3 linked regions of the Homo sapiens genome follow. The protein of the gene in region 3 binds, or shares a complex with, the protein of the main gene of each other region. Each region holds a gene or a part of one and is shown on either strand. Other genes may lie near its edges.

The links.
Region 1: RIPK1 (region 3) and RIPK3 share a complex: the UniProt entries of both Homo sapiens proteins name them as parts of the AIM2 PANoptosome complex.
Region 2: RIPK1 (region 3) and CASP8 share a complex: the UniProt entries of both Homo sapiens proteins name them as parts of the AIM2 PANoptosome complex.

What each region holds. Positions count from the first base shown.
Region 1 is NC_000014.9:24,335,112-24,346,265, reverse strand, and holds RIPK3 (receptor-interacting serine/threonine-protein kinase 3), read left to right. Parts: upstream 1-6,274; 5' UTR 6,275-6,439; coding exon 6,440-6,459; intron 6,460-6,668; coding exon 6,669-6,809; intron 6,810-6,941; coding exon 6,942-7,251; intron 7,252-7,698; coding exon 7,699-7,844; intron 7,845-7,970; coding exon 7,971-8,017; intron 8,018-8,225; coding exon 8,226-8,393; intron 8,394-8,503; coding exon 8,504-8,571; intron 8,572-8,805; coding exon 8,806-9,180; intron 9,181-9,320; coding exon 9,321-9,381; intron 9,382-9,870; coding exon 9,871-10,091; 3' UTR 10,092-10,241; downstream 10,242-11,154. UniProt on the Homo sapiens protein: Serine/threonine-protein kinase that activates necroptosis and apoptosis, two parallel forms of cell death. Necroptosis, a programmed cell death process in response to death-inducing TNF-alpha family members, is triggered by RIPK3 following activation by ZBP1.
Region 2 is NC_000002.12:201,261,613-201,272,044, forward strand, and holds part of CASP8 (caspase-8 isoform 2 precursor), read left to right. Parts: intron 1-4,848; coding exon of another isoform or gene 4,849-4,874; coding exon 4,875-5,179; intron 5,180-7,897; coding exon of another isoform or gene 7,898-7,993; intron 7,994-9,903; coding exon 9,904-10,009; intron 10,010-10,432. UniProt on the Homo sapiens protein: Thiol protease that plays a key role in programmed cell death by acting as a molecular switch for apoptosis, necroptosis and pyroptosis, and is required to prevent tissue damage during embryonic development and adulthood.
Region 3 is NC_000006.12:3,069,113-3,079,544, forward strand, and holds part of RIPK1 (receptor-interacting serine/threonine-protein kinase 1), read left to right. Parts: exon of another isoform or gene 1-604; coding exon of another isoform or gene 605-667; intron 668-4,526; exon of another isoform or gene 4,527-4,690; intron 4,691-7,651; coding exon of another isoform or gene 7,652-7,711; coding exon 7,712-7,875; intron 7,876-8,666; coding exon 8,667-8,823; intron 8,824-10,432. UniProt on the Homo sapiens protein: Serine-threonine kinase which is a key regulator of TNF-mediated apoptosis, necroptosis and inflammatory pathways.

The sequences.
Region 1 (11,154 bases), on a different chromosome or scaffold from region 3:
TTTTTTTTTTTTTTTGTATTTTAAGTAGACACGAGGTTACAGTATGTTGGCCAGGCTGGTCGTGAACTCCTGACCTCATGATCCACCCGCCTCGGCCTCCCAAAGTGCTGGGATTACAGGCATGAGCCACCATGCCCAGCCTCCTGTGGTCTAACCTATTATCATGCTGAGCCTTGCTATGTTCTTTCATCCTCATTTCATTTCACCCTCAGAACAACTCAATCCAGTAGGTGCTATAATTAACCAAAATTCAGAGAGGTTGAGTAACTTGCTAAAGGTCAAACAGCCAGTAATTGACAGAGCAGAAATCAACCCCAGGTAGACTGACTCCAGAGCTTATACCCTTGACCGTTAGGCTATACTTTACTCCCTGTAAATAAACAGCAGGACTCACCTGAGGTCAGGAGCTCAAGACCAGCCTGACCAACATGGAGAAACCCCGTCTCTACTAAATATACAAAAAAAAAAAGAATAGCTGGGTGTGGTGGTACATGCCTGTAATCCCAGCTACTCGGGAGGTTGAGGCAGGAGGATTGCTTGAACCCAGGAGGCAGAGGTTGCAGTGACCCAAGATCGCACCATTGCACCCCAGCCTGGGCAACAAGAGCGAAGCTCCGTCTCAAACAAAAAAAAGAAAAAAGAAAAGAAAAAAAGAAACAGCAGGACACCCAGCTAGGGAAGCAACATGAAGCAGTGGCCTGCTCCACTGGGGTGAGAGGAGCTGGGAGAGCACAGAAATTATATTTTGACATTAACTAGACAGTAAGAAAGAGAGAAGGACTCACACTGACAGAAGGGGCATTACGGTTATATGTGTGTGGACGCTTAACTTATAGCTGCCCAAAATCTTTTTGGTCCCACCATGGTAATGTAGAATCAAAATAGTTACCCTGCCCAGCCTCCCTTCCTTGAGGGTACAGACAAGTACGTTAAGTTCTGCCAAAGAGACGCTCTGGGACGCAGATCCAAAATGCGGTGTGAGGAAACAGATTAAGCACAAGGATTCCATTTTGCTAGGACGGTGAGCGCAGGTGGGATAGGAGAGCTAAAGGTATGTGGTTCTTTGTGAAAGCATCAGCCCCTCAGCTCTCCTAAGGAAAAGCAAGTAAAAGGGGGCTTCAGACCTGCTTGGAATCCTAAAGGAGAAGAGCAATACTTGGGCCCTGGAGGAGGCTCCCCAAAAGAAAGCATCTCAAGGATAGGGAGAGGCGGGTGCCACAGTGAATGGAGTCCCTATCCAAGTGGAAAGTTCTCCCCATTACTCTTCTCTCTCAAACCTGGGGTTTGTTTGGTGACTTTCCTGAGTTGAGTATAGCTCAGTCCCCAAAAGTGACAGTTCTTTTGCACATAGTTGCAACCTTTCCCCATGTGTGGAGGGTTTGTTTTCAGTAGCTGGGATAAGGGTTCCCCCATGAGCTGGAGCATCCCTGAGTCGGCAGGGGGTGGAAGGAAGGGGGCAGACGGGAATCCGCACTGCCACAGTAAAAAGAGGTTTCTTATTGCCGGGCGCGATGGCTCACCCCTGTAATCCCAGCACTTTAGGAGACCGAGGTGGGCAGATCACGAGGTCAGGAGTTCAAGACCAGCCTGACCAACATGGTGAAACCCCATCTCTGCTAAAAATATAAAAATTAGCAGGGCATGGTGGTGAGCGCCTGTAATCTCAGCTACTCAGGAGTCTGAGGCAGGAGAATTGCTTGAACCCGGGAGGTGGAGTTTGCAGTGAGCCGAGATCATGCCACTGCACTCCAGTCTGGATGACAGAGTGAGACTCCGTGTCAAAATAAATAAATAAATAAATAAATAAATAAATAAATAAATAAATAAGAGATTTCTTATCACTCTATGTTTACTATTCACCTCCAGACAAAAAATGAGAACTTTTTATTCTGTAAACCTTAGACAGTAAGTCCAACCTCCCTTGATTGTGAGGATTTACTGTGAAAGTGCTTTGTGAACCATCACATGTGGAAAAGACCAGTTGTTATCATTGTTGCTGGTGGGGGCGGGGAGGGAAAGGCCACTCAGCCAGTCTGGCAGTTGGACTCATGAAAGTTCACACTGTAGACTTTACCCTTGACTCAGAACATGCTCTCTGAGTGGAATCACCTCTATCACGTTATGTCTGTCAAAATCTTACCATATTGAAACTCCAAGACCTAATAACATCCATTAAATACCAAAGTGACCAGCAGGCTACTTACAATTACAAGAAATCAGGAGGGAGCAGCAAATAATAGACTGACGGGCTAGGGTAGTGGCAGGTGGGAGAGGGAAGCTGCTACATCTCTGGGCATGTCTTGGAGACAAAGAGGAAGCTGAACTGTAGAATTACTACACTCATTTCATGAACTCATTTCAGGAAAATTAGAAAATGCAGATAAAAATAAGACTATAAGTACTCACCTCAGCAGCACACACACTAAGAAAAAGATATGATTATAAAATATAAGAACATAAAAATCACCTATAAGCCCATCAGCCAGGAATAATTCCTTTAAACATTTTTCTATTTGTCCATTCATATATTTTTCTAAGCATATATACGTATACATACATACATTCTTTCTTCGCGGTGAAATCTGATGTTAAATCAAACAGCTAAATGTTTATTAATATAAATTTTCATATGTCCCTTTCTAATACTAGAATCATATTTTTAGCAGATCCTTTTGTGGTAAAATACACATAGCACAAAATTTATTATTTTAACCCTTTAAGTGTACAGTTTTGTGGCATCAGGTACATTGACTTCATTGTATAACCATTACTACATCGTTAGAACCTTTCATCTTCCCAAATTAAACTCTGTACTCACTAAACAGTAACTCTCCATTCTCTTCCCTCAGCCCCTACAAACCACCATTCTACTTTCATCTCTATGAATTTGACTATTCTAGGTACCTCTTATAAGTGAAATCATACGATATGTGTCCTTTTGTGACTGGCTTATTTTACTTACCATAATATCTTCAAGATTCATCCACATTATAGCATGTGTCTGAATTTTATTAAGGTTAAATCATATTTTTAAGGCTGAATTATATTGTATGGTATGTATATACAACAGTTTGTATTGGACCGATCCATTCACTTATTGATGGACATTTAGGTTGTTTTCACCTTTTGGCTGTTGCGAATAATGCTGCTATGAACATTGGTGTACAGTTATCTATTTGAATCCATGTTTCCTATTCTTTTTTTTTATTTTTATTTTTATTTTTTGAGACAGAGTCTTGCTCTGTCCCCCAGGCTGGAGTGCAGTGGTGTGATCTTCGCTCACTGCAACCTCTGACTCCTGAGTTAAAGCGATTCTCCTGCCTCAGACTCCTGAGTAGGTGGGATTACAAGCACATGCCACCATGCCTGGCTAATTTTTGTATTTTTAGTACAGATGGGATTTCACCATGTTGGCCAGGCTGGTCTCAAACTCCTGACCTCAAGTGATCCGCCAGCCTCGGCCTCCCAAAGTACTGGGATTACAGACATGAGCCACTGTGCCTGGCCTCAATTCTTTTAGGATATACTCAGGGGTGGAATTACTGGTAGCAGATCTTTTTAAAAAATTAGTCCTGGCCGGGACTGTCACCTCAATTAATACCATTTGGTCTGTAATTAGAATCTCTTAATCAAACAACGGATAAGAATTAAGACTAGAATATGCAAGGAGACCACATAGATCCCCCACAACCCGCTACCCCTACAACAATTAGGGAGAGGGAACCAGAGCTCACAGGAGAGATGAACTGAATGTAATTAGAGACAATCAGGAGCAGGGAACTGAAGGAATAAGAAATATCCAAGTAAGGCTGGACGTGGTGGCTCACACCTGTAATCCCAGCACTTTGGGAGGCCAAGGCAGGTGGATCACAAGGTCAGGAGTTCGAGACTAGCCTGGCCAACATGGTGAAACCCCGTCTCTACTAAAAATACAAAAATTAGTAGCTGGGCGTGGTGGTGCATGTCTGCAATCCCAGCTACTCGGGAGGCTGAGACAGAATTGCTTGAACCCAGGAGGCAGAGGTTGTGGTGAGCTGAGATTGCGCCATTGCACTACAGCCTGGGCAGCAAATGTGAAACTCCATCTCAAAAAAAAAAAAAAAAAAAATTAGCCAGGCATGGTGACACATGCCTGTAATCCTAGCTACTCAGGAGGCTGAGGCAGGAGAATCGCTTGAACCCGGGAGGCGGAGGTTGCAGTGAGCCAAGACCACACCACTGCACTCCAGCCTGGGCAACAGAGCAAGACTCCATCTCAAAAAAAAATTTCATTTAATTTAAAAAAAGAAATACCCAAGTAGGCTCCAAAAGCATGGGACATCTGTGGTCAGAGGCATCAGTCCTCAGAAAAGACCAGAGCTCAGAATTCCAAGAATCAGCCTCTGCCTAGGTCCACCCCCATACCCCCTTGCTGGAAGCTGAGGGTCCTGTTAGGCACTTAGTCTAAGGTTCTTCTCCCTGCTCTTCCTTCTTTTAAAGAGGCTGTTTATTTTGAGTCAAAAAGTAGTATAGGCCCTGATACCACACCCAACTTTGTGCTTCACAGTGGTTTATCCCTCATTCTCAGGGTCTCGTCACAATCTGAAGAAACCCAGTTATAACACCTTTCCAAATCCTTTCTGCCTGTTCCCTTCAAGTGGAGATACTGAGCCTGGGTTATTCTCTCTAAAAAGAATCACAAAGGGAGTGGCTGCCCCTTTTGATGGCTCTCAGCTTCTGACTCTAGGCTTTTCTGAGGACCTGCTACACTTCTTGCCTTCTTGGATTCTGTGTGATACCACCATATCTCTATACTAAAGCCTACTTCAGATGGATTTCATGAACTGTGCAGGTGAGAGCCCTCAGTCCCTACAGGAACCCAATCACCTCTTTCCTCCTACTGAGTATGGAGCTCCATCTAGGATGATCAGTGCCTTAAGAAAGGCTCGATATTTTGGGTTGTTCATTTATTCATTCAATTCAACAAATATTTATTGGGTATCTGCCATGTATTGGCTTTTAAGGAGACTACGGTTGAACAATTCCCTAAATAGTTCCAAAATAGCATGAACTGACCCTGCTAGAAGCCATGGTGTGGCTCTCCAAGAGTTGTTTTAGAAAAAACTACAGATCACTTCTGCCTCAACCAGCAGAGCCCATGGACCACTGAACAAAATGGAAAGCAAGTACCAAGGTGAGCACCTTTAGTGAGAGCCAACGCACAACCCACAGGATTGAGTATCCCTGTGAAGGATTGAGTGCCTAGGGCAGGCCCTATCGGGTTCCCACAACCTCCAGTCATGGTCAGACCTCAGAAAGGTAAAATATGGACACCTTTTTTCTGCCCTAAATCTTTAAGACTCTCCATGCTTCTGGGTTATCAAAAGACTGTGTCCAGAGCATGTGCTTGTCAGGAACATTAATTAGGGTATTTGCATGCAAGAGTTGTCATGCAAGGGAGAGGGCAGGAAAGCTCTGAGGTGTTTCCACTGTAGTGTACACCACAATGTCACCAACCCTCTGGATGGGCTGATAAATCTAGCCTTACCACAATGCCCTGGGAGTGGGCTTGGGGCCTGCCACCTCCAGGAGCTCCTGTTCAAAGGGCATATAAGTCCCTATCAATGCCAAAGACTTGCCTCGCAAGAGCAGCTATAGGGACTGGGCAGGAATACAGATAGGGATCCTTCACTACATTGTTGGATGCTTCACACCTTTCCCAGCCACCTGCACGACCAGCTGAGTGGTACAGCCCTGAAGCCTATGTGAAAACAGGATAACTTGATGGTTCAGAGCCATTATTTCCATATGGGCTTAGGCAAGGTACTTAAACTCTCAGTGTCTCAGTTTCCTCACCTATAGAAAGGTAATAAAAGCAGTACCTATCCCCTTAGGGTTCGTGTGAGAATTAAATAAGCTAATATATATACCTGGTGCATGATAAGTTTTATATACGTGTTGGCTATGATCTTAGGGCAGCTGTGAGAGAGCTGAGCCCTAGAACCATAAAACCCTCCTAAGCACCATCTCCACTCATGGCCTGGCAGGTCGTGGAGCAGGAAATCCTGTGGGAAAAGGGAAGGCTTTGACTGTAGGAGTGGGTTGATTGTGGGTTCCTGGAAGGTGAGGACTCCTTCCCTAACATCCTCAATGCCCAGCAACACCTAATCTGGCTGCGGCAGGTGCTCAGGAAACGCTAGTCAAGGAGAAAGGCACTAGCTTTCGCTCTGCCCCCTGCCCCACCCCAGGGGCGGGACTGTAGAGGCGCCTATAAGGGAAGTTGTTCAGTCAACTCGGAAAAAGGGTAACAACCCGGAAAGTAGACTCACCGTCTTGGTCTAGAGACTGACCCCTGCACAGACAGACCCCTTCCCCTCTCTGCGAAAGGACCAAGCCCCAGAAGTCACTCCATCTCCTACGGCTCGCAATTTCCAGAGGCCCCCTGGCACCTTCCAGCCTGATGTCGTGCGTCAAGTTATGGTGAGTAGGGAGTGGCATGTCGATCGCAGCCTCCGACATTCACACCCAGAGAGCCCCACAGACTCGCTCAGAGAACGTCTTTGAGTCCGGGGACGGTGGGGGCCGGCGAGGGAGGCTGGGGATTGCAGTGAGAACGCCGAGTCACAGGGGCGCGGGGAGCAGCGCTGAGGCACGGCACGGCCGGCTAGTGGGCGACACCCCTCTCTCAGGCCCAGCGGTGCCCCCGCCCCCTTGGTGTCCATCGAGGAACTGGAGAACCAGGAGCTCGTCGGCAAAGGCGGGTTCGGCACAGTGTTCCGGGCGCAACATAGGAAGTGGGGCTACGATGTGGCGGTCAAGATCGTAAACTCGTGAGTGACCCCGGTTGACCCCAGCCGCAATCTGGCCAAAAAGGTGGAGCCACTGTGCTCTGGGGCCTGAATGGCGAAGGGAGGGATTTTCCCACGACCCCGGTGCGACTCCAGCTCTCTCCTGGAGTGTAGGAAGGCGATATCCAGGGAGGTCAAGGCCATGGCAAGTCTGGATAACGAATTCGTGCTGCGCCTAGAAGGGGTTATCGAGAAGGTGAACTGGGACCAAGATCCCAAGCCGGCTCTGGTGACTAAATTCATGGAGAACGGCTCCTTGTCGGGGCTGCTGCAGTCCCAGTGCCCTCGGCCCTGGCCGCTCCTTTGCCGCCTGCTGAAAGAAGTGGTGCTTGGGATGTTTTACCTGCACGACCAGAACCCGGTGCTCCTGCACCGGGACCTCAAGCCATCCAACGTCCTGCTGGACCCAGAGCTGCACGTCAAGGTCAGCTGGTCTACACCCCTCTCAGCCTCAAGACAAGGCCCCAGAGCTGCTCCAGCCAGGCCCGCCGGACACTAGACCTCCAGAGCCCTGTCTATTGAATAGGCGTAGCCTCTCTCTCTGGACACAGGGCTGCCAGGGGACAAAGCCCAGCCAGGAGTTTTAGCTCCTGCCTACCAGGTGATAGAGGCCCTGAGCCACACGAGTCATTTCCACCAGCTGCCCCACCAGCCCCTCCAAAGAGTCATGGCTGACCCAGCCCTGGAGACTCAGACCTTGACCTAGCCCTACCACAAGGCACCTAGATCTACCATCCAAGGGAACCTCTTCCCTTGACCTCCACACTCCCTTTACAAAGCTGAACCTGCACCTTCTGGGGGCAGGGGGGTTCCTGGAGGCTCTCTGGCCCCCTTGTCTTCCCTACCTCCCACTTCTTTCCTTCCTTTGCAGCTGGCAGATTTTGGCCTGTCCACATTTCAGGGAGGCTCACAGTCAGGGACAGGGTCCGGGGAGCCAGGGGGCACCCTGGGCTACTTGGCCCCAGAACTGTTTGTTAACGTAAACCGGAAGGCCTCCACAGCCAGTGACGTCTACAGGTAAGGATCCCGGCCCAAACACACAGCCAGGATTCCTACACTTCTCTGGGCCCTCCCAGGGGATGATGTATAGGAAAGGAGTCTTGCCAGTGATTGGACCGATCCTCAGCTTTGTGTCTCCTGCAGCTTCGGGATCCTAATGTGGGCAGTGCTTGCTGGAAGAGAAGTTGAGTGTAAGACTCTAGGAGGATTCTGGGATCCTTAACCCCAGGTGCCCTTCTCTTGAAAGCCCCAAGGCTTCCCCTTCCCGCTCACCTACTTAGACTGCCCTCCTCCCTCCTCGTGCCCCCACATTACACTCCCTGCCTCTTTCCATGATGAAGCAGATAATTCCCTTTTACCCTGAATGCCTTCTCTTCTCACCCTCCTCCCCTACTCCAGTGCCAACCGAACCATCACTCGTGTACGAAGCAGTGTGCAACAGGCAGAACCGGCCTTCATTGGCTGAGCTGCCCCAAGCCGGGCCTGAGACTCCCGGCTTAGAAGGACTGAAGGAGCTAATGCAGCTCTGCTGGAGCAGTGAGCCCAAGGACAGACCCTCCTTCCAGGGTGAGCTGGCCAGTTAGCTGGATCTAGGATAAGCTTGGGTCTGTCAGCAGGGGGCTTTTCTCAGGAAAAGAAGATTTGCTCACCTGCACTCCACTCTGCTGTCCCTCTAGAATGCCTACCAAAAACTGATGAAGTCTTCCAGATGGTGGAGAACAATATGAATGCTGCTGTCTCCACGGTGAGTGCCAACATCACCCCTCCCCAGGAGCTGGTCAGGGATGGCACAGCGTGGCTACCTGGCCATCCAATGACTCACCACTGACCACTGCTTTTTATGCCTTGACCTTTGTACCCACCGTCCCCAGCCCACCCCTGAGTTCCCAGACAACAGATTATGGACCGAGAGACTACTCCCTTGGGTTTACTCTGGCTCATCCAAGTCATACCCAGCAAACTCCTCCCATCCCTGCAGGTAAAGGATTTCCTGTCTCAGCTCAGGAGCAGCAATAGGAGATTTTCTATCCCAGAGTCAGGCCAAGGAGGGACAGAAATGGATGGCTTTAGGAGAACCATAGAAAACCAGCACTCTCGTAATGATGTCATGGTTTCTGAGTGGCTAAACAAACTGAATCTAGAGGAGCCTCCCAGCTCTGTTCCTAAAAAATGCCCGAGCCTTACCAAGAGGAGCAGGGCACAAGAGGAGCAGGTTCCACAAGCCTGGACAGCAGGCACATCTTCAGATTCGATGGCCCAACCTCCCCAGACTCCAGAGACCTCAACTTTCAGAAACCAGATGCCCAGCCCTACCTCAACTGGAACACCAAGTCCTGGACCCCGAGGGAATCAGGTGAGACATTGACAGGATTAGGGGATGCACTAAGAGTCCTATAAATGCTGTCCCCTTGCCAGCGAAAACTTGGGGCTGAGAGGAGTGCAGTGGGAGTGCCAGGCTCCAGGGCAGAACTGGATGCTCTGTGCTGTTTGCAGGGGGCTGAGAGACAAGGCATGAACTGGTCCTGCAGGACCCCGGAGCCAAATCCAGTAACAGGTACCCATTCTCTACCTCTTTCTTTTCCCTGTTCAATTCTTCCACCAGACTCCTCCTCCAGACCTATATCTAGATTCAGGGTACTTTGTGGAGGGGAGGGGAGAAGATGATCTAACTCAACCTTCTCATTTCATAAATGGGAAAACCGACACCCCCTGAGAAAGGAGCCCTCTGAGGTCACACAACAAAGCTTGGATTTGTCCCTGAATCTTCTAACTTTCCACAACACCAGCTCTGTGAGCCCCCTAAGTTCCATTGTTTCAGCAGTCCAGAGGACCTCCCAGCAAAAAAGATCAGGGTCTCAAATGTCAATTGCCACTCTCTAGAGCTTCTGCTAACACAATTCTGGAGAGGAGCTCTGAGGGGAGGAGCACAGGGCACACCTTGACACAGCCACTGACAAGTAGAGACTTCATACTCCCCACCCACCCCCAACTTGGCCTTTCTGACAGCTAAACCCTCCTGCCACCATCACTATTTCTCTTAAAGGGCGACCGCTCGTTAACATATACAACTGCTCTGGGGTGCAAGTTGGAGACAACAACTACTTGACTATGCAACAGACAACTGCCTTGCCCACATGGGGCTTGGCACCTTCGGGCAAGGGGAGGGGCTTGCAGCACCCCCCACCAGTAGGTTCGCAAGAAGGCCCTAAAGATCCTGAAGCCTGGAGCAGGCCACAGGGTTGGTATAATCATAGCGGGAAATAAAGCACCTTCCAAGCTTGCCTCCAAGAGTTACGAGTTAAGGAAGAGTGCCACCCCTTGAGGCCCCTGACTTCCTTCTAGGGCAGTCTGGCCTGCCCACAAACTGACTTTGTGACCTGTCCCCCAGGAGTCAATAAACATGATGGAATGCTAGTCAGTCTGAGCTCAGCCAGGGGCAGGGAGGGACTGGGATGGGGGTGGGAGCTGCCAGTGAGGGATAGGGAGGCACCACAGCTCTGCTATGGCAGGAAGTGGGGATGCTGGGGGCTGGGAGTGGGCAATGGCCTGGCACACAAGGTCAGGGCACAGCCGGCTACAACAGGAAGGAATCCTAGAGGCCTGGTTCCCCAGACCACTCTCTAATCTCAGGGCAGTGCTTCCTCTAAAGCCTAGGATGGCGACCCCACCCTAACCCTAAACTCTGGGGATAGAGGCTGTGGTCCCTTTTCTTCCGGGCTCTCAAGACTCACTTGCAGGGCTCTGGCGAGGGATGAGTTGATGTGAAAGATCACAGACCTGGCCCCGCACGGTGCCCCCAGGCTCTTAGAGATCATGACGCCACATACCTGCCTCCACCACACACTCAGGTTGCTTCCTGGACATTGCTTCCCTTTTGATTCCCAGTTGCTGTTCGGGAGTGGAAAGCTATGGCTCCTAAAGCTATACACAGGCGCAACCCCTCCCACGGAGCATGAACAGTTCAAACCCGGTGGTAGTGGTTGCCAGCCAAGCGGAGAGGTCAAGAGAATGAGCGCCCCCAACTCTGACCTAGATCCCCACCAGGACCCACATTCTTCCCTACATTCTCGCCAGGCTTCAGCCCCCCGCCCTCGGTCTCCCCACTACCAAACGTTCACCTCCATTTGGACACATCCCATTGGGTCCACCCCAGCCCACCCCTTCGCATCTCTCCCAGGGTCCACATTGCCCTTCCCTGAAGGGGCTGAAGCGGGGAGGCGATGGTGTTAGGAGAGACAAAACCAAGTGCGGGAGGAGACCAGGGGAGTCCGGCTTTGGCACAGGAAGGGGCCGGGCTGTCCCGTCGGGGAAGTGGGAGGGGGCCGCG
Region 2 (10,432 bases), on a different chromosome or scaffold from region 3:
TTATGGACATCATGTGCGTGCAGAATGGATGTCTGTCAGGTTCCGGGGCAGCCCGCAGTCTGAGGCAGCCAGCCTGGATTGGAGGGAGTGGCAATACTACCTGCCGGTTAGGGGTTTGGGCCTGAGAGCGAGTGGCTTTCAGGTTCTCTCAAGCTTCGGATGAGATGCAGGTTTCTGCTTCCGATGGCAAATGCATGTTTTGCTTTTTAGTTATCACTGCAAGAGCTAGGATGCTGCTAGAATATTACTGGAATGATTGTGATGAGATGGAATGTATTTACAGTTTAATTGTGACATGTAATACAGTGGTAGAATGGGACTCTGGAATGAGATGCTGGGGCCTAGATTCTAGCACTTCCTTTGTGAGGCTCTAACCCCCTCTCCTATAGTGGATTTGTTAAGAACTTCTGTTTTTGTGGCTTTGTTATTATAAAATTTTTTGAAATGTTGTTCTCTAAAAAAGTTATGATTTTATGTTTTTCTTCATGAGATTCTTTCACTGCCTTCCAGCTGCAAGTAGAATGACGTCTAAATCTTTGTGATCTGTCACTGAAGCCCTTGAGTGAGACACTTAAATCTGGCTGTGGCTCTCTCTCTTACTAGCTTATTTCCAAGCCGTGATTTTTCACAACAGAAAAATGGGGACAGTAATAGTAGTTTCTTCAGAGGCTTTTAGTGAAATGAGGTTAAAAAATATTTTTATGTTTATATGGATATATAGATTACAAACATTTATATATCATTTATTTATATGATTATTATAAACACATATTTATATTTAAATACTTTGGGGCATAAATATATAAAATAATAAATATACTTATGTAATACAAATAGACTTATATACATTTACTATTTAGCAGAGATTATATAAAATATATGTATTACATGGCAACATATTCAAATTTACATATGTTATATATACATGTGGAAAAAAAATTGGGAAAAGGCCACAAAATGTGACCAAAGAATTACTTCCAAATGGCAAGTTTTTAAGTAATTTTTATTTTCTTTTTATACTTCTCTGTACTTTCTCTATGAAACAAGTGTTACTTTTACTGTTTTTAGGAACCAAAAATACAAGTACATTGTTTAAAAAATACTAGCTTAACAAAGTTTCTAGCCCATAAGCTAGTGCAGAAAATCTAGGTCCCATAAAACAAGAACTGCCACACGATGTCTCTCCCCTTACAGTGCTGGATGGCCCGTTGTTAATGGTGTCATAAATCCTTTGCAAGTGACTGTTTTCTAGGTACTATGACTAGAGGGATGTGTAACTTAAGCAAAAAACAAAAAACAGAAAAGGCTGACTATCATCTGACAGTGTATCCTGGAACACCTAGGCCAGAGAAGAAGCCACGTTAGCATTTTCCCTTCTAAATGTCAGTTATGATTTGATGGGGAAACCACTTAAAAAGCATTGTCACGTTGTTGAAAAGGTAATGAAATGAGTGAGATGAGATGGCTATGGAGGACGGAGCTATGCGCCAATCTTATTATATCCAAATTCATGTCATCTCAGCCTTGGATTGTATTGATTTTTATTATATACTGTCAGAAAATGCTATTGAATGTGTAACAAGAGCCTCAAAAAGGTTTATTCATTTTGACACCATAATACTACTTTTAGGAAATTATTCTAAGAAAATAATTAGAGGTATTCTTAAAGATTTGCGTTTTAAAGTCATCCTAAATGTAATCAGGAACTGGCTATGTAAATTATAGCCCATCTCTAAGATTAAGTGCCTTACAGATATTAAAACCCATGCTGTAGAAGAAAAACTAAAGACAGGAAAGTACTTACAATACAAGATGTACTTACCAGTGGAAAAATCCACTTATACTACAGAAATATGATGTGTTCAAATATAAGGAAAAATGTGTATGCATAAAATATTTGGTAGGAAAGAGTAAAATATTACTGGGCATTTATATTTGGATGGTGGAATTATACATAATTTTAATTTTCCTTTTTATCTTTTCTGTATTGTCTAAAATGAATACACTAAGCATTGTTATCCTCAGAAAAAAATAATTGAGGGATGGGGGAAAGGAAGTCCTGCTTTCATTTGATTCTTTGGTTGGTTTTATTCTGTAAGATGAGACTTTAACAGAGGTTAGAATGCATTAAAAATTGTAAAGACAGTTGACCTAATGGCACTAAACAGGGTTAGATCTAGTTTAGATCTTTTCCAGCATGTGAATAAGAATGGATCTTTAAATAAAGATTTTAACTAGGTATATGTTTTAGAATAAGTCATACATGTACATGGTAAAAATTCAAACAGTACAAACTGTGCAGCAAGGTATGGGAAATAAAGCAGCTCTCACTGTCACCTCCACCCATCAGCCTTCTCACACTGCACGCCCACATCTGTGTGTAATTCTGCTTTTCTTTAACATTACTGAAGGAACTTCCTGTGCATTTTTTGTCAGAGCTCTTCTGTGAATACACAAAATATGTACTGATCAATACATTATGTAGATCACGCAGGCTCAACCACATTGATCTTCCTATTCTTTCTAGTAGCCAAATAGAGTTCCCTGGAATATGATTAATAGCTTGCCTAAATCTTCTAATGCTGATAAACAGTTGTTTCTGCTCTTTCGTTATTTCAAGGAATGCTACCATGAATAGCCTTATATATGGTTTTGAGTATACTTGTTTAAGTGAATGTAGGAAAAACTCTTGGAAGTTAAATTGTGGGCCAGTTTATGTGAATTTTATATTTTGACAGAGATGGCTAAATTACCCACCTGTTTTTTTGTTTTGTTTTGGTTTTGGTTTTGCTTTTTTTTTTTAAGAGTTGGGGTCTTGCTACCTGGGGTCTTGCCACCTGGGGTCTTGCCCAGGGTAGACCTGAACTCCTGGGCCACGTTGGTTTATTTTACTGCATTCCCAGGGCCTAGAGCAACGATTGACACGTGCTAGCAGTATCTATTGGAAATTCTGGCCAACTTGCAATAGACCTGATTATTTCTACACTGAACATGTCTAAGATAGCTATTACTATTCATTCAGGAAAGCCCAGACAATTATCATGCCAGCAGCCTGAGACAGTAGCCAGTAATAGCCTGGTGTGGTAGTTTGCTCCTGTAGTCTCAGCTACTCAGCAGGCTGAGGTGGGAGGATGGCTCTAGCCTGGGAGGTGGAGGTTGCAATGAGCCAAGATTGCGCCCTGCACTCCAGCCTGGGTGACAGAGTGAGACCCTGTCTCAAAAATAAAAATAAGAATAAAAAATAAACCAGCAAAAGTTTCTGCCCTCACAGAGCTTCCATTCTAGTGAGAGGGTAGTTTGTCATCAGGAGGGTGACGCCGGTAGGGCTGGGGGCCAGCTCCCTGCAGGGAACAAACATGATCGCAGTGGGGTGGGAGTAGGGGATGAGTCCCCAGAGCCTCTGTGGTTTCCATTTCCACACAAAAAAACCACTGCTGCTGTAATCAGGAGGGGGAAAAGATTTTTAAAAATTTTCTTTCAGGGAATGGAAGGAAAGGATATTTTTGAAAGTAAGACTTTGAAAACTAAAAGTTTTGGGTCACTTAAAAACTCAAAATCTTTAGGTCACTTTAAAAATATTTAATCTTGGAGCTGGAGGCCATTATTCTAGGTAATTAGCTGGGTGTGGTGGTGTGTCCCTGTAATCCCAACTACTAGGAGGCCGAGGCAGGAGGATTGCTTGAACCTGGGAGGCGGAGGTTGCAGTGAGCCGAGATCGCGACACTGCACTCCAGCTTGGGTGACAGAGCAAGACTGGGTCTCAAAAGAAAAAAAAAAAACGAAAACTAAATACCGTATGTTCTCACTTAAAAGTGGGAGCTAAGCTATGAGGATGCAAAGACATACAGAGGGATATAATGGACTTTGGGGATTGATGGTGGGGTTGAATGGGAGGTTGGTCCTAATAGGTCCTAGTACGTCCCCTACTTCTAAGTCTTCCAGTCTGTCCTTTGCACTTTGAATGTTAATTCCAAGTTGGATAATGTCATTCTCATTTTTACAGTCCTTTCTTAGCTCCTCATCACCTCCAGGACAAAGCCTAAACCCCTCGCCCCATGGTAATGCGGCCCCTTTGTGACATGGTACCTGGCTAGAGCTTCATCCCTTTGTCCCATCACTCTCCATCCCAGACACTTTGTAGTTACTTTATTGAGCTCCTTGTGCCTGCCTGAATGGACTTGAAAGTTCTTACCTCCATCTTTTACATTAATTGTTTCCTGTAAGAATTGTGCTTTCTCGCATTCTCCCCAAAATCCCTTCCCCATAGGAAGCCCTTCTCCCAGGCTAAGTTAAGGTTTCTTCCTCTACATCCCTACCACACTCTGGTCACAACCCTCTAACCATTGGCTTGTTTTTTTTGTTTTTTGTGTTTTTTTTTTTTTTGTGAGACGGAGTCTTGCCCTGTCACCCAGGCTGGAGTGCAGTGGTGCAATCTCCGCTCACTGCAACCTCCACCTCCTGGGTTCAAGCGATTCTCCTGCCCCAGCCTCCTGAGTAGCTGGGATTACAGGCACGTGCCTCCACACCTGGCTAATTTTTGCACTTTTAGTAGAGACGGGGTTTCACCATGTTAGTCAGGCTGGTCTCAAACTCCTGACCTCGTGATCCGCCTGCCTTGGCCTCCCAAAGTGTTGGGATTAGAGGCGTGAGCCACCGCGCCCAGCCCATTGGCTTGTTTGTATGTCTACCTTCCTAAACAGTAAGAGGGAACTTGTCTGGTGTTCTTTTTTTCTCTCCTGTGCTGACAGCACAATGACCAGTACCTAGTAGTTGCAGTAGCCTTTGATGAACAAGCCAGCAAATGGTACTTTTCTTCCTTATCTGAACATACCATTTATTTTGACTTAGATTATATTCTCCTGCCTTTTAAAAAGATGGACTTCAGCAGAAATCTTTATGATATTGGGGAACAACTGGACAGTGAAGATCTGGCCTCCCTCAAGTTCCTGAGCCTGGACTACATTCCGCAAAGGAAGCAAGAACCCATCAAGGATGCCTTGATGTTATTCCAGAGACTCCAGGAAAAGAGAATGTTGGAGGAAAGCAATCTGTCCTTCCTGAAGGAGCTGCTCTTCCGAATTAATAGACTGGATTTGCTGATTACCTACCTAAACACTAGAAAGGAGGAGATGGAAAGGGAACTTCAGACACCAGGCAGGGCTCAAATTTCTGCCTACAGGTGGGTGGAAACTCCCATTGTGGGACTGGGAGGTGTGGGTTGAATGGACAGCCTCTGAGCTGATTGGGGCTTTTTTTTGTGGTACCCTGCCTAGTGCCTGGGAACCCAGCAGTGCCACAATTCTAAGCTTCTACAGAAAGACAGTAGTGCCTTGGGTGGTCCTGCTAAAGGCTGTAAAACTTAGCTTCTCCCCACCCTAGAGAGAGTGGGTAAACAAAGGCGTGAGAGAGAAACCACATTCAGTATCACTTGGGAGGCTTTGGGAAGATGTCCCACCGGAGCCAGATTAAGAAATTTAGGGGCCTTATATATAATTCTATAGAAATGCTAAGACCATAAAATAAAAATTTATTTTTCAAAGTGAAACATTACTTAGAGGTATGCTGAAGTTATAATAGAGTTTTTCTAAGTGTTCTCATTTTTTTCCTCTCTTATCTTGATGCCTCTCGATATCCAGATTGTGTGCTTACTTTGCCCATCCATTGAGTAAAGCATCATGGCTTCCCACCCTGAAATCCCCCTCCCACCTGCTTGCGGATGGCTATGAAAATTTTCAATGAGATTTAAGGGTTTTCTGCCACACTTAAAGACTCGAATGACTAAGTTCTTTACGGAGCTGTAAGCCGCTGGCCTGGCACATACAGCTAGGCAGTCTCCACCGAGGCTGCCCAGTTCCTGTGAGCCCGGCTGTATGACAGTTCTAAGCTTCTATAGGAAGACAGTGGCACGTTGGGTCATCCTGCCAAAGGCTGTAAAACTCAGCTTCTCCCCACCCTAGGGAGAGTGGGTAACCAAAGGTGTGAGAGAGAAACCCCATTCAGTTACAACTTCATGATGCTGTGACAAGACTTTAAAAACAGAAACACATTGTCACTTTCTCTCTTTCAACATCTCCTATTATCGGACACTACTTAAAGCAATTTTAGCTTTGCTTTCAGGAAACTTCTACTGAAGTCTTCGTTCTGGGCCCATTTCATTGTCTCTGTTTGCTTGTTGATAACTATGGCATGTGAGATGGAAAGGGTTCACAACCAGGGCTGACAGCTGCTGTCCTCTGATGGCTCAGCCCATGAATGCTCTGGTCTTTCTATTCTCAGAGACTATTTTTTGTTTTGAGGCTTGACTATTTTTTGTTTTGTTTTGTTTTGTTTTTGAGACGGAGTCTCGCTTCATCACCCAGGCTAGAGTGCAGTGGCATGATCTCGGCTCACTGCAACATCTACCTCCAGGGTTCAAGTGATTCTTCTGCCTCAGCCTCCTGAGTAGCTGGGATTACAGGTGTGTGCCACCATGCCCAGCTAATTTTGTATTTTTAGTAGGACGGAGTTCCACCATGTTGGCCAGGCTGGTCTCGAACTCCTGACCTTAAGTTATCCACCAGCCTTGACCTCTCAAAGTGCTGGGATTATAGGTGTGAGCCACCATGCCCAGCCAAGGCTTGACCATTTTGATTTTAAGTGAAAAAAGAGATATTCTGGGCCGGGTGAGGTGGCTCACGCCTGTAATCCCAGCACTTTGGGATGCTGAGGAGAGCTGATCACCTGAGGTCAGGAGTTCAAGACTAGCCTGGCCAACATGGTGAAACCTCATCTCTACTAAAAATACAAAAATTAGCTGGGTGTGGCGGCTCACGCCTGTAATCCCAGCTACTTGGGAGGCTGAGGCAGGAGAATTGCTTGAACCCAGGAGGTGGAGGTTGCAGTAAGCTGAGATTATGCCATTGCACTCCAGCCTGGGCAACAAGAGTGAAACTCTGTCTCAAAAAAAAAAAGAAAGAGATATTCTGGGTATATAAGTTTCCTAGGGCTGCTGTAACAAAGTAACACAAACTAGCAGGTTTAAAACAGTTTTTAAAATGTGTTTTCACAGTTCTGGAGGCCTGAGTCAGAAGTCAAGATGCCAACAGTGTTGGTTCCCTTTTAAGAGGCTCCGAGGAATAATCTTTTTCATGCCTTTCCCTGCTTCGGGTGGGTGGAGGAATCCTCAGTGCTCCTTGTCTTGTAGATGAGGCACAGCAGTCTCTGCCTATGTTCCCTTCTCTGTGTCTAAATCTCCCTCTTATGAGACAGTCACTGGATTAGGAATTAGGGCCCACCTAATCCAGTATGGCCTCATCTTTGTGTGTGTGTGTGTGTGTGTGTGTGTGTGTGTGTGTGTGTGTGTGTGAGACAGTGTCTCACTACATCGCCCAAGCTGGAGTGCAGTGGCATGATCTCGGCTCAGTGCAACCTCCACCTCCTGGGTTCAAGCAATCCTCCCACCTCAGCCTCCCAAGTAGCTGGGACTACAGGCACCCGCCACCATGTCTGGCTAATTTTTGTATTTTTTTGTAGAGATGGAGTTTCAAAATGTTGCCCAGGCTAGTCTTGAACTCCTGGGCTCATGCAATCTGCCCACCTCAGCCTCCCAAGTTCTGGGATTACGGGCATGAGCCACTGCGCCTGGCCAGCATGACCTCATCTTAATGAGATTTTATCTGCAAACGTCCTGGGTCCACATAAGGTCGCATTCTCATATTCCAGATAGACATGAATTTTGGGGAAGAGGGGAGAACACTATTCAACCAGTACACTAGATAGCTTTGGTTTACTAGCATTGTGAAGTCTTTATAAGGCACTTATTCATTAAGGCGCCAGTTAGTCCTAAAAACCCACAGCCCCAGAACAAGGAAAGCCGAGGGGGGTCTCATCTTGTGCCCACCATCTTGGTCCTTTGAAGGTTCCACTTCTGCCGCATGAGCTGGGCTGAAGCAAACAGCCAGTGCCAGACACAGTCTGTACCTTTCTGGCGGAGGGTCGATCATCTATTAATAAGGCAGGATCTCTCTTAAAATCTTTAATGTATTGGCTTAGAGATAAAAGGGTCCGGGCAATCCTGACTTACTGCTTGTTCATTATCATTGAATACTAGCCAGAAGCTAATAAATATGCTAGGGTGACCACTTACCATTATAAGAAAACACTAGACATTTTATTTTCCAGTTATAATTGCTACCTATAAAATAAAGATCTTATAAACTATTCAGGTTCATTACTAAATGGTGATGGTACAAGAAAGCCTATAGGCTTCAATAATGAGGAAAGCAAAAGGGTAAATACCTTGTAATAAAGGTGAAAGAGTCAGAGTAGCTTTGGATTAGATCCAATTTTGGCCAAACTGAAAGCTTTAGATAAACACTTCTAGGGTAGAGAGTCCATGAGAAGGGGGATAAGGCAGATGGTAATACTGAGTAATTTCTGTTTCTACGCCATTTTTATTTTCAGAATTTTACTTTTCTAATTAAATTTTAAAGTCAACGTGTTTTTGTATTAAAATTATTTTCCTTTACACCATAGTATTGAAAGGTTTGCTGACTTCTAAAACATTCCTTTGTTCACCTATTCGACAAGCATATTCCAAGAGCCTAAATGTGCCAATCACATAAATGTGATAGGCATAGATTAGGAAATAGTAACACCTATCACTCATTGAGCACTTAGTGTGTTGCCAAAGACTGATTTAAGTACTTCACATAAACTTATTTGTGTAACCCTCGAAACCTTCCTATGATGTGGTTACGGATAATTATCTTCAGTCTATGGACGAGGAAAAAATGTGTAACATGTCTAAAGTTAACACTGCTCAAAGATAGTGGAACCAAGGCTCCAACACCAATAGCCTGGGTCCGCTGAGCTCAATCATTGCACCTCACAACCCTCTGGGTTTATGAAAATAAAAAGGGTACGGACCTGGCCACTAGGGGACTTGAACAGTTTCTAAACAGACAATTATTTTCTGTTTTTATTTTTAGTGTGGTGGCATGATCACAGCTCACTGCAGCCTCAACCTTCTGGGCTCAAGTGATCCTCTCACCTCAGCTTCTGGAGTAGCTGGGACCACAGGTGCATGCCACCACACCCGGCTAATTTTTAAATGTTTTTGGTAGAGATGGGGTCTTGCTATGTTGCCCAGGCTGGTCTCAAACCCCTGGGCTCAAGTGATCCTCCTTCTGCCTTGGCCTCCTAATGCGCTGGAATTAGAGGCATGAACCACTGCACCAGGCCAACAGACAATTATGTGTGTTATCGTTTTGGGGTTACTAAGTCATAGTGGAGTGAATGCAGCTTTGAGGATGCTCAGGCAATGCTTGAGCTGATTGTTCATGGATGGGCCTCTGCAGATAGACAAGGGGATGGGGTGTAGCGGCACCACAGAAAGGGGTGAGGGCAGGGCAGCTGGGTGTGTTTGGCTTCAGGTCCTTTCGTGTTTGCGGTCTGGTCTGTGATAGGGATGTATTCGGAGACTTTGTATTCCAGAACCGAATGCTTGGCCGTCTTACTGAAGATAATGACTGGGAGAATACTGACCAGTTTTGATTAGGGAAGTCATGAGCCAATGTGCATTTTGAAAAGCATAATTTCCAAAAGGCAAAGCATTTTGCTATTGCAACAAAATCTCCATTTTACAGAAAAAAAAAAAGGAAAACAAGATTTACTCAACTGAAATAAACTGAAAGAAAAGTTGATAGAACTTTAAATTGTTAAGGGTGGGAAAGTCGGGGAGGAGCCAGTAGACTTCTGTGTCACCACACCAGCCTCTTTCCAAGGGCTCAACTCATAAACCATGCCATTAACTGGCTTTATGTTGAAGGGAGGCCTTTGGAATCAAGCCCACTGTGACTCCATATATCAAATGGGAAATTATTTGGGAAAAGATTTCTAAAGTGTCTCCATTTCCCACCACAGGGTCATGCTCTATCAGATTTCAGAAGAAGTGAGCAGATCAGAATTGAGGTCTTTTAAGTTTCTTTTGCAAGAGGAAATCTCCAAATGCAAACTGGATGATGACATGGTAAGACCTGGTATCTTACTGAGATTTAGTCCTGAGACTTGGTTAGCCAGGGGGCATTTCTGAGACCAAAGAGAGGGGTATTTTGGTAAAAGCAACCTGGATTCTCACTTTTTAACTAGAAGAAGAAAGTTGTCAGCACGAGTGTTACAGATGTGATTCCTTTAGACCGAAGTGCTGCTCATGTTAATTATTGGGAGCAAGGCAGAGTCAGAGGCCGGGAGAAGGAGGCTGTGCAGATGCAGCCCAGACCCGGCAGAGCTGGGAAAGACTGCGGTGGGTCTGAGATATTTCCTCCACTTCTGCAGTCCCCGAAACAACCTGGGACCTGAAACTCTGTGTGTATATTGTGTCTGTGTGTTGTGTGTGTATTTCCGTGTCTGTGTGTGCCTTTCTCTGTGTATAGTGTGTGTCTGTATTTGTGTG
Region 3 (10,432 bases):
TTACCGCGTGAGGGTGGAATAGGCAGTCCCACACGCCATTAATGTTGTTTTGGTGGAGAAGGTGGGCTCCTAGTGCCCTATCATTAAGAAAAAACAGTTTGGGCTCTTCCCTTACCAGCCCTTTGAAAGGGCCTTTTACTGTTGCGCTTGAGGCCGCAGCAGGTTCCAAAAACAAAAGCATTTCTGCGTGATCTTAGACGACTGAGGGGACGAATGTGGTAACCCTAGCAGGCTTCTGTCACTGGCAGGTGCTTTTGTGAAGTGCTGCGGACCCTCTTGAGGGTTGGGAAGAGGATAGGCTGCATCCTCCTTCCCTAAGCATTTGACAAAGCCTCACAGGGATGCGGGGGTTGCGGGGGCAGGGGGAGGTCTGGGGTTGTTAGTTCTTTCTCTCTTGCTGACCATTTGGCTCTCCCTTAATCAGAGCTCTTTTTTATTTTGGGCAAAGCAGGAGGCTGTTCCAATGATTAATTCTTCCCTGACTTACACTTGAAGAAGCCAAGGCAGGAAGTGAACTTTGAAATGTGCAATGTCTTAGTACTCATCTGCATTCTGTGACTGCTAGGAAGATGGACTGAGTCAAGAGGAAATTGTCTTGTTAGAAATGTGGAATACTGCGTCGGGCACGGTGGCTCACTCCTGTAATCCGAGCACTTCGGAGGCCGAGGTGGGAGGATCACCTGAGGTCAGGAGTTCGAGACCAGCCTGGCCAACATGGCAAAACCCTGTCTCTACTAAAAATACAAAAATTAGCCAGGTGTGGTGGCGGGTCCCTGTAATCCCAGCTACGCGGGAGGCTGAGGCAGGAGAATGGCTTGAACCCAGGAGGCGGTAGTTGCAGTGAGCCGAGATTGCCACTTACACTCTATCCTGGGCGACAGAGGGAGACTCTGTATCAAAAAAAAAAATAAATAAAGAAATGGGGAATACTGCAGCTCTTCTATTCACAAAAAGTGAAGACTAGGCTTGTTTAAAATGAAATTTGGAGTGTATCATTATTACTGATAAAATAGCAAAAATGATAACTTTTAATACTCATTTTCCTCTGTCTGAACTATACTGAGCCTCAGAGATATGTTGTACTTTCTGGAATGTGAATATTAATGAGTATTAAGAAAAGCTCTTAAACAGCCTCTTTCAAACTGGGCAGCTTACTTTTTGGTGCTTATTAATCTATAACGTGTTAACATCCATATGATCTGGGAATTTGAAGAAAATACTTAATTTCCCATGCTTTAGTTGGATATTACATTCTGGCAAAAAAGGTTGACTGTATTAATCTGTAGAACATTGATTTTGAACCATATATTTCAAAAATACATGAGCCGTGTATTTTTATTTTTGAGACAGAGTCTTGCTCTGTCACCCAGGCTGGAGTGCAGTGGCGCGATCGCGGCTTAATGTAACCTTCGCCTCCCGGGTTCAAGCAGTTCTCCTGCCTCAGCCTCCCAAGAAGCTGGGATTGTAGGCATGCACTACCATGCCTGGCTAATTTTTGTATTTTTAGTAGAGACAGGGCTTCACCACGTTGGCCAATCTGGTCTCAAACTCTTGGCAATCTGCCCTCCTTGGCCTCCCAAAGTGCTGGGATTACAGGCATGAGCCCCTGCACCTCACCTTCCTGTATTTAAAAAGTTTATTCTGTACTTTCTCCGTGTTTCTGACTGTCGCACATTTATTTAATATAGATGAGTAAGGCTGTAAGGGTGGGTCTTTGCATCTGGATTTTTCCGAAGACAGATTATTTGCTATCTAGAGAAGTAGCATGTATTAGTGAGCCAATAGTGAAAGTTTGAATGAAGGGACAAATATTTCATTCCAGGATCCTACCACTTTAGGTGAATCACTTAGCTCCAAATCTTAGTTTCTTTATTTGCAAATTGAAATCATGATAAAATTTGCTTCAGGGGTTATGATGCTTGTTTAAACTCTGTTTCAATTCTTGTCTCTTGCTGGTCCTTAAGTCTCTTCCTTGCTCAGAGCTTTTGTTTATCCAGGCAAAGCATCAGGCTGCTGTAATCAAGGAAGTTGGAGAAATCCTCTGGTCACTTGGATAGCTGAGCAAAATCAGAATTCTGTTAGTGGGAAGAAAGGGGGCAATGGCAGGTGGGCAACCAGCATTTTCTGCCATTCTCTTGTTATGTGTGGTCATCATAGAAAAATGGGGAAAAAGTTAATTAGAATATTTTGATATGTATACTTACCCTGCCTTAGAAGGTAATCGTGAAATTCCTTGAGATTTCACATTAATTTCAATAGAAACAAATTCACTGTCCTGAGTCCCTGAATTAATATTTATGCAAAACATTTACAAATTCCTTCAAATGGACGTAATTATTAGTTAAAATTATTTGCTATAACAGGCCAGCATGTCTTTGTCACTCTGTGTCATGGCTTTGTAATAATATGGTTATGCAGTATGGCCATATAAGCTGCCTAAATTCACTGTTTTTGTATATCCTTCAACTACTCACAAGGCCTTCCTAAGATATTCAGTGCTCATAAAGTTGAATCTTTCATGTGGAAAAAAGAGGGGTGGATAGGAAAAACAAAAGAAATCACTGAACACCATGCAGAAGATGCAGAAGATTAACAGACTAAACTAGCAAACCGCAAGACTGTAAGGAGAACTGACTTGGGTCAGGAGCTAAGCTCCCAAAGTCCAGTGGACCCAACTAGAGGCCTTCCCAAACTCCACCGCACACAGCAGCACCTGCAGGTCCTAGTTGGTCTTGACAAATTTGAGGAGATGTGGCTGAGACTGAAGAAGAGATACCAAATAGGACTCCTCATAAAGTAGAAACCTTTTACTCAAAAGGGCATTTTTCAGGGCATGTTGTAGTTCCTGCCTGTTTCTTTACTGTCTGTGACCTTTTTTAAATATTATTAAACATTCTTTCACAACATCGCTTTTGCAAACTGCTAGATATATTTCAGTGTTGATGGGCATAACTGATTCTCTCCTCTGTACATGCTAAGTGTTTTACCTACTTTTGCTGTTCTATGTAATGCTACCAGGAACAGCTTTGCACATAATCTTTATCAGCATCTCTGATTTGATCCCTCAGAGTAAAGAAATACTGAGTCAAGGAATTATTCCTTTCAAAAAAATAATTTTAATTTTACATTTAATTCATGTCTATTGTGGAAAATTTGGAAAACATAGTAAAAGTGTAAAGAAGAAAGTAAAAATCAACCTATCATCAAGATACAATCCTTGTTAACATTTTGGTGTCTTTATGTCTTTTTTATCTGTACTTATATCTTTATCTATTTACATATATATATATATAAAACACACACAAATGTGAATATAATTTTTACAGATTTATTCGTCAAAAACAATTTTGAATGGCTATATAATATTCTGTTAGGAGTGTGCCGTAATTCATTTAACAATATTTTTATTTTTATTTTTTTGGACAATTAAATAGTTCTCTTTTTAAAATAGTTATTCAATTGATGATGGGCCGGCATACGTTGGGTTCTGCTAGGCTCTGGAGATGGTGCACAAGACAAGTTTCCTGCCTTCTGTGAACTTCATGAGAAATAATTCTCAATTACAGTACTGTCTTACCTATGGAAGTGTCTAATGGGAAGACTTAGGATGGCTTCCTTGACAAAATGACAGTTCTCTGACACCTAACCAGGCAAGAAGTTGGAAGAATATGGCCTAAGAGGGTGGGGCGGATGACCCTTATGGAATGGGGAAGGCTTCACAGTTCTGCCTGCTCCAGTGATGTGTAGTGAATGAAAAAGGAGGCCTAAAATCAATGTTATCTTTTATGCCCTCTGTCTCCACCCGCTCCTACCTCATTCTCACTAGGATTGGTCAGTAGGGCCCTGCTGACAGAGTGATCCCAGCTGAGAATGTTGGCATTCTCAAAGCCCAAGGAAACAACACCCGTGTGGATAAACACATGTGGGCGGCTGGGCCAACCATAGCTAGAGACATAAAGCAGGCAACAAACGTGTTTTCACAAATATATACATATGTACATATATACGCATATACAAATATATACATATACGTATATACACATAGACAAATATAGCTATATATCTACATATACAATATATGCATACACACATACAAATATGTGTATATATACACACATATACATTTTTATATCATATATTATATATTACATATATACATATACAAATATATGTATATTTATACGTATACATACATGAACGTATACTTTTTTTTTCTCATAATCCTTACCACTTCTGTGAGGTGGTCATTATTGTTTCACTTTGCAGATGAGGAAACTGAGGCATAAGTAAGTGCCCCAAGGTCACAGGTTGGTGAGTCACAGAGCTAGAGTTCACGCTCATAGTGGAGGGCCCGTGCTCTCGGAGCTATGGCTCCTGGTCTCTTACCTCACGCGTGTGCCTCACCCCACCCCTCAGTCTTCAGGCCTTCATCTAGGCAGCCCCCCGCCTCCACCCACTGCCCACGTCCCACCGATGTAGTTGTTTCCTGAGGCACTTCTCTTGTTTGGTAATGTCTTATGTCCTAGGAAAGAAGGCCCATAGGTGCTGCTGTATGAGCTTCCTCCGCTAGACAGAGCTGGCCCCAGCCTTTAGATGAGGTGTAGAAGGCTGGTTACCCGGGTCACCTGTAGCCGGCCACTGTGCAACACCATGGGCAGCCTAGGAGTTTCCAGAGTCCCCTCTCCCCAAGGTATTTCTTTTTTCATTTTTTAACTCCCTGCCCTCCAACATTTTATTATGAAAAACACCAAGTCTGAAGGTTACGTCCACCACGACTATCGTCTTAACACCGCTTGCTTCATCGTGTAATTCTCCATCTCCTTTCCCGTCATCTGTCCGTCATTGTCTGACTTTTTGATGTATTTCCAAGTACACATCAGTACACATCTCGAAATACTTCAGCATGCATACCATAGCTAGAGTTCAATATGTTTACAGGTTTGTCTTTTGATGTAAAATTTACCTGCTGTTGTTGGGAGTACATCTGCTGAGTATGGGCAGATGCGTATGCCTGCAACCCTAGCCCCCGTTGATATCCTACAACATTATCATCACCCCAGAAAGTTCCTTCATGCCCCTGCCCACTCAGCCTCACCGTGCTCACAGGCGGCCAGTGTTCTTTTTCTGACACAGATTGGTTTTGACTTCTGAACCGTCATATAAATAGAATTACATAGTATGTATGCTTTTGTATAAGGCGACTTTCACTTATCACGTTTTTGCATTTCGTTCATGCGGTTTTCATTCATGTGTATCAGTAGTTCATTTTTATTGCTGAGTAGTATCCCATCGTGTTCATACACCAGTGTGTTCACTCATTCTCTTACTGATGGGCAGCTGTTTCCAGTTTGGAGCTATTATAAATAAAGTTGCTATGAACATTTTACAAGTGTTTTCCAACATACGTTTTCATTTCTCTTGGGATTGGAATTGCTGGGTCATAGTGCAGGTGTTTGTGGTTTTATAAACAAAATAAATGCCTATGAAATTTCAATGAATATTTTATGCCCCAGAAAGAGTATTTTTCATGGTCTGTATCTGGATGTAGATATTTATTATTTTATTTTATTTTAATTTTTTTGAGACAGAGTCTCACTTTGTTGCCCAAGCTGGAGTGCAGTGAGTGGCATGCGATCTCGGCTCACTGCAACCTCCGCCTCCCAAATTTAAGCAATTCTCCTGCCTCAGCCTCCTGAGTAGCTGGGATTAGAGGCGCGTGCCACCACGCCTGGCTGATTTTTGTATTTTTAGTAGAGACGGGGTTTCACCATGTTGGCCAGGCTGGTCTTGAACTCCTGACCTCGTGATCCGCCCGCCTCAGCCTCCCAAAGTGCTGGGATTACAGACGTGAGCCACGGCGCCCAGCCGGGATGTGGGTATTTCTGGAATACAAAACATCCATAGCCCTCCTTTTACTCTCAAAGCAAAACACAGACACGCACATTCACATGCACACACCAGTGTGTCCGTGTCCTGTTGGTTTGCATGGAGTTTCTGTTTTGCCACGAAGCTTTTTGCCAGCCCTTTTCCCAAAGTGTTTGTACCATTTTATACTCCCACCAGTGATGTTTGAGAGGTCTGGTTGCTTCACATGTTTGCCAGTGTTTGGTGTATTAGTCTTTTTAGTTTTGGATATCCTGGTAGTTGTGTAGTGGTGTCTCCTTGTGGTTCTCCATGGGTTTTTATTCTATATTTCAGTTTGGGGAAAATGAATGAATGGAAGAAAAGAAGGGAGGAAGGATGAAGCAAATAGCTGTGCTTTGAGATCTGACACTGTATACTTCACAGCCCTGATGGACATTCTCCAAATTCTACTCCTTTTTCACATTTTCTTCTTAGAGTTTGCATTGTTCTTTTTATATTCTTCAGATTCCTTCTTTTGTTCATAATTACTTAAACCTATTCATTTTCTAATGCCTTTCAGTTGTTAATTTACTGAAGTTCTTTGGTGCTTACTAGTGCTGCTTGCTGTAGCTGCAGGGTCTGTCTCACAGTGAATTTTTTCTTTTGTGTTTTATAATTTTGGAAAGGGAGCTCATGTTAAATTTGTATTTGTAGGAATTCTGTCTGGCCTGGCTTGAGGTTGTTGTTTGCTTTAGCCTATAACCTCAGGATGGCATCAGCCTGTGACCACTTCCTGTGTAAAAGTTCATAGTTTAGGCGATCCTCTCAATTCAAAGTCTGTATCTATTTCAAGACAGGCCCAAGGTTATAAATTTGCACAAACTTTTTTTTTTTTTTTTTAATACCTTGTGCCCAGTCCAAGACAAATATGTTTGTTTGCCATGGGCTGCTTTTTTTCTAGTTCATCCTTTCATCAAAGGGTTGCACATTGAGCAGTGCCGTGTTAAGGGGGGATTCTTCATTCTACCTTCTTTTCTTGTATTCCTTGACCTCAGCTGGGCTTTAAACCTTGACTTCTGGATGGCGAGGTTGGCACTCCCCTGTGTGAGCTACTGCCTGCCTCCGGTGCTCTGTTTCTGTCCCTAGAGTTCTTTTCCTTTCCACGGAGTTTTGGTATGCATTTCAATGAATGTTTGTATTATGTTGTCCAACATACTTGTGTCCTTTATAGCTGGAGGGTTCTTAAAATTTTCTAATGCTCCATATTGCCAGAAATAAAAAGGCTGAGGGAATAAATATTATAGTCTTCTCTGATTCTTAAAAATATGAAAAATAGCTCATCAGATGACTGTAAGTCTATCCTCAGAAATCCAAGGCACACCAAGCATGTGGTGGAATGTTAACAAAAGTTTTTAAAAATGATCTTTTCTGCCAGGTACAATGGCTCACACCTGTAATCTCAGCACTTTGGGAGGCTGAGGTGGGAGGATCCCTTGATCTTAGGAGTTTGAGACCAGCCTGGGCAACATAGTGAGATCCCCCGGCCCCCCCATCTCTACAAATAATTAAAAAATCAGCTGGTCACGGTGGGGTGCACCTGTGGTCCCAGCTACTCAAGGAGGCTGAGGGAGGAGGATTGCCTGAGCCCAGGAGGTCGAGGCTCCAGTGAGCTATGATTGTGCCACTGCACTCCAGCCTGACTGACAAAGTGAGACCCTGTCTCCAAAGGAGAAAAAAAAAAACATATATATATATATATATATATATATAGTCTTGCCCTGAGGTTTTCTCTCTGTTTTCTTTACAGGGTACAGCTCTGCCGGGGGGGGAAAAAGTGGTACCATTTTGGGCGTTCTTGAGCTTCAGAATGCAACCAGACATGTCCTTGAATGTCATTAAGATGAAATCCAGTGACTTCCTGGAGAGTGCAGAACTGGACAGCGGAGGCTTTGGGAAGGTGTCTCTGTGTTTCCACAGAACCCAGGGACTCATGATCATGAAAACAGTGTACAAGGGGCCCAACTGCATTGAGTGAGTAGGGAGCAGGGGTGGGTGGGCTAAGTTCTGAGCGGGATGGGGACGTTGGCTGTTGTGGAGCCGTTGGCTGCTGCGGAGCCGTTGGTGGGTAGAGTGAGAGGGAGCCTGCCAAGATGTCAGGGTGACGATGGCTCTTCGGATTGTTATTGTCGCTGATGTGGACTCTGAGACTGGGTAGTGAAGGACTCTCACAGCTGGTAAGTAACAGAAGAGACATGAACAAGAAGGAAATAGAGAAAGACAAAGAGATAAGTGTGGTGGGGGGACAATGAAAAGGAAACAGGAGGATGGGTGAAGACAGACCTATTCACTCGCTTCACATTTTCAGTGAGGACCAGCCCTAAGTATAAAAATGAAAAGGCAGTTCATTCCTGAGAGGTTCTGAGAGCCTTCCCTTTAAAGCAACCAGTAGAGTGGTTTCACCTCTCTCCCTCCTTTGTCAGAGTGGTTTTGAGAGAGGCTGTTTTTTTTTTTTTTAATCGTTCTGTCCAGCACGGTCTTTTTTCAGGTTACCTTGCTGCTGTTCATGTACTTTTCATTCATTGATTCATTCATTCCTTCATTGATTTACATTTTTGGAGCATGCACTGCCAGTTACTGGGCAGGAGTACTGTGAGGAAGTGAGAAACCGCTCTGCCTTCTAACGCTTCTGGCCTGTGCCTGGAAGAGATCGGTACAGACCCAAGCATGACCCCAGCACGTGGGAGTGATGTGTTGGAGGTGTGCACCAGGCTCTTGAGGCGCTGGCTCTGCCAGCCTCAGCATAGCACCTTTCCTGCCCACAGGCACAACGAGGCCCTCTTGGAGGAGGCGAAGATGATGAACAGACTGAGACACAGCCGGGTGGTGAAGCTCCTGGGCGTCATCATAGAGGAAGGGAAGTACTCCCTGGTGATGGAGTACATGGAGAAGGGCAACCTGATGCACGTGCTGAAAGCCGAGGTAGAGAGGGCCCCTCCGCACGGGGATCCCCAGCGCTTGGGCCCTGGCTGTCTGTTATGGCTCCCCTTGGGGTGTTTGTTTGCAGCTCGTTAGCATCAAATTTGCAAATTGCTTGGTAGTTTGAATTTTCTTTTCCTTTTTTTATAGAGACAAGGTCTTGCTATGTTGCCCAGGCTGAACTCCAACACCTGGTCTCAAGTGATCCTCCCACCTCAGCCTCTCAAGTAGCTGGGATTACAGGCTGGATTTCCTGAAGTCAGTTTCTCCTTAAAACATCTATGCCTTGATTGGGCTCCGTGGGTCACTTCTGTAATCTCAGCACTTTTGGCAGGAGGATCACTTGAGCCTTGGTGCTCAAGACCAGCCTGGATAACACAGTGAAATCCCCTCTCTACAAAAAATAAAAGGTGCATGTGAACAGAGCAAGACCCTGTCTCTGAAAAAAAGAGAAAATCTTCCTTGCCTTTTACTGCCCTGAGAGTGGTCTCTTCATCCTCTCGATCCTGTGGACAGTCCTCCATAGTCTGTGTCTTAGGAATGTGATTGGCTGTTTACCATACCTGTCCGCTGCTCTGCAATCTACAGTTCAGAGACAAGCCCTGTCTTCATGATGCAGACATCATCTGATGTAGAGTATATGCATGATGGGATGACATTAAATATGGATTAATGAAAGGATATACACTATAAATGACCGTGAGAGCAGATAGAATATTAGTGGTTGCACTTTGATACCATTCAACAAAGTTTTATTTTAAATTAAATATAGAAATTATTGGCAACAACACTGGATAGGATTTAAAACAAAAATAAAAATTGTTTACCAAAGTCAAATGATTTGAAAACATTTTTAAAAGCTTATGTGCCTGTTAAGATGAAGGCCTTGCGCTAGTTGCTCATGAATCAATAGCTAATATGACGTAGGAGAGTAAAAGGAGGCAGATAGCTAAATAAGTGGTATGGTGTGATGGGGTTTTTTTTTTTTCTTTTGTAAGAGAACAAGGTCTCACTGTGTTGCCCAGGCTGGAGTGCAGTGGCACAATCATAGTGCACTGCAGGCTTGAACTCCTGGCCTTAAATGATCCTCTCACCTCAGCCTCCTGAGTAGCTGGGACTATGGGCATGAGCCACTGCACCCAGCTGTGTGGTGGTATTTTTTTTTTTAGAGGAGTCTCGCTCTGTCGCCCAGGCTGGAGTGCAATGGTGCAATCTCGGCTCACTGCAACCTCCACCTCCCTGGTTCAAGCAACTCTCCTGCCTCAGCCTCTTGAGTAGCTGGGATTACAGGCGCCTACCACCATGCCTGGCTATTTTTTTAATTTTTAGTAGAGACAAGTTTTCACCATGTTGGTCAGGCTGGTCTCGAACTCCTGACCTCGTGATCCGACTGCCTTGGCCTCCCGAAGTTCTGGGATTACAGGCATGAGCCACCGTTCCCAGCTGATGGTGTTTTGATAGACATACTCATTGCTGAGGGAGTACACATGAGAGGCACCCACTCAGCCTGGAATAGACAGAAAAGGCTTCCAATGTGAAGGACATGTAGACGTTTTGAAGCAGAGAATTAGAGAACAAGTGTTCTAGGCAGAGAGAATACCATGTAGAGACT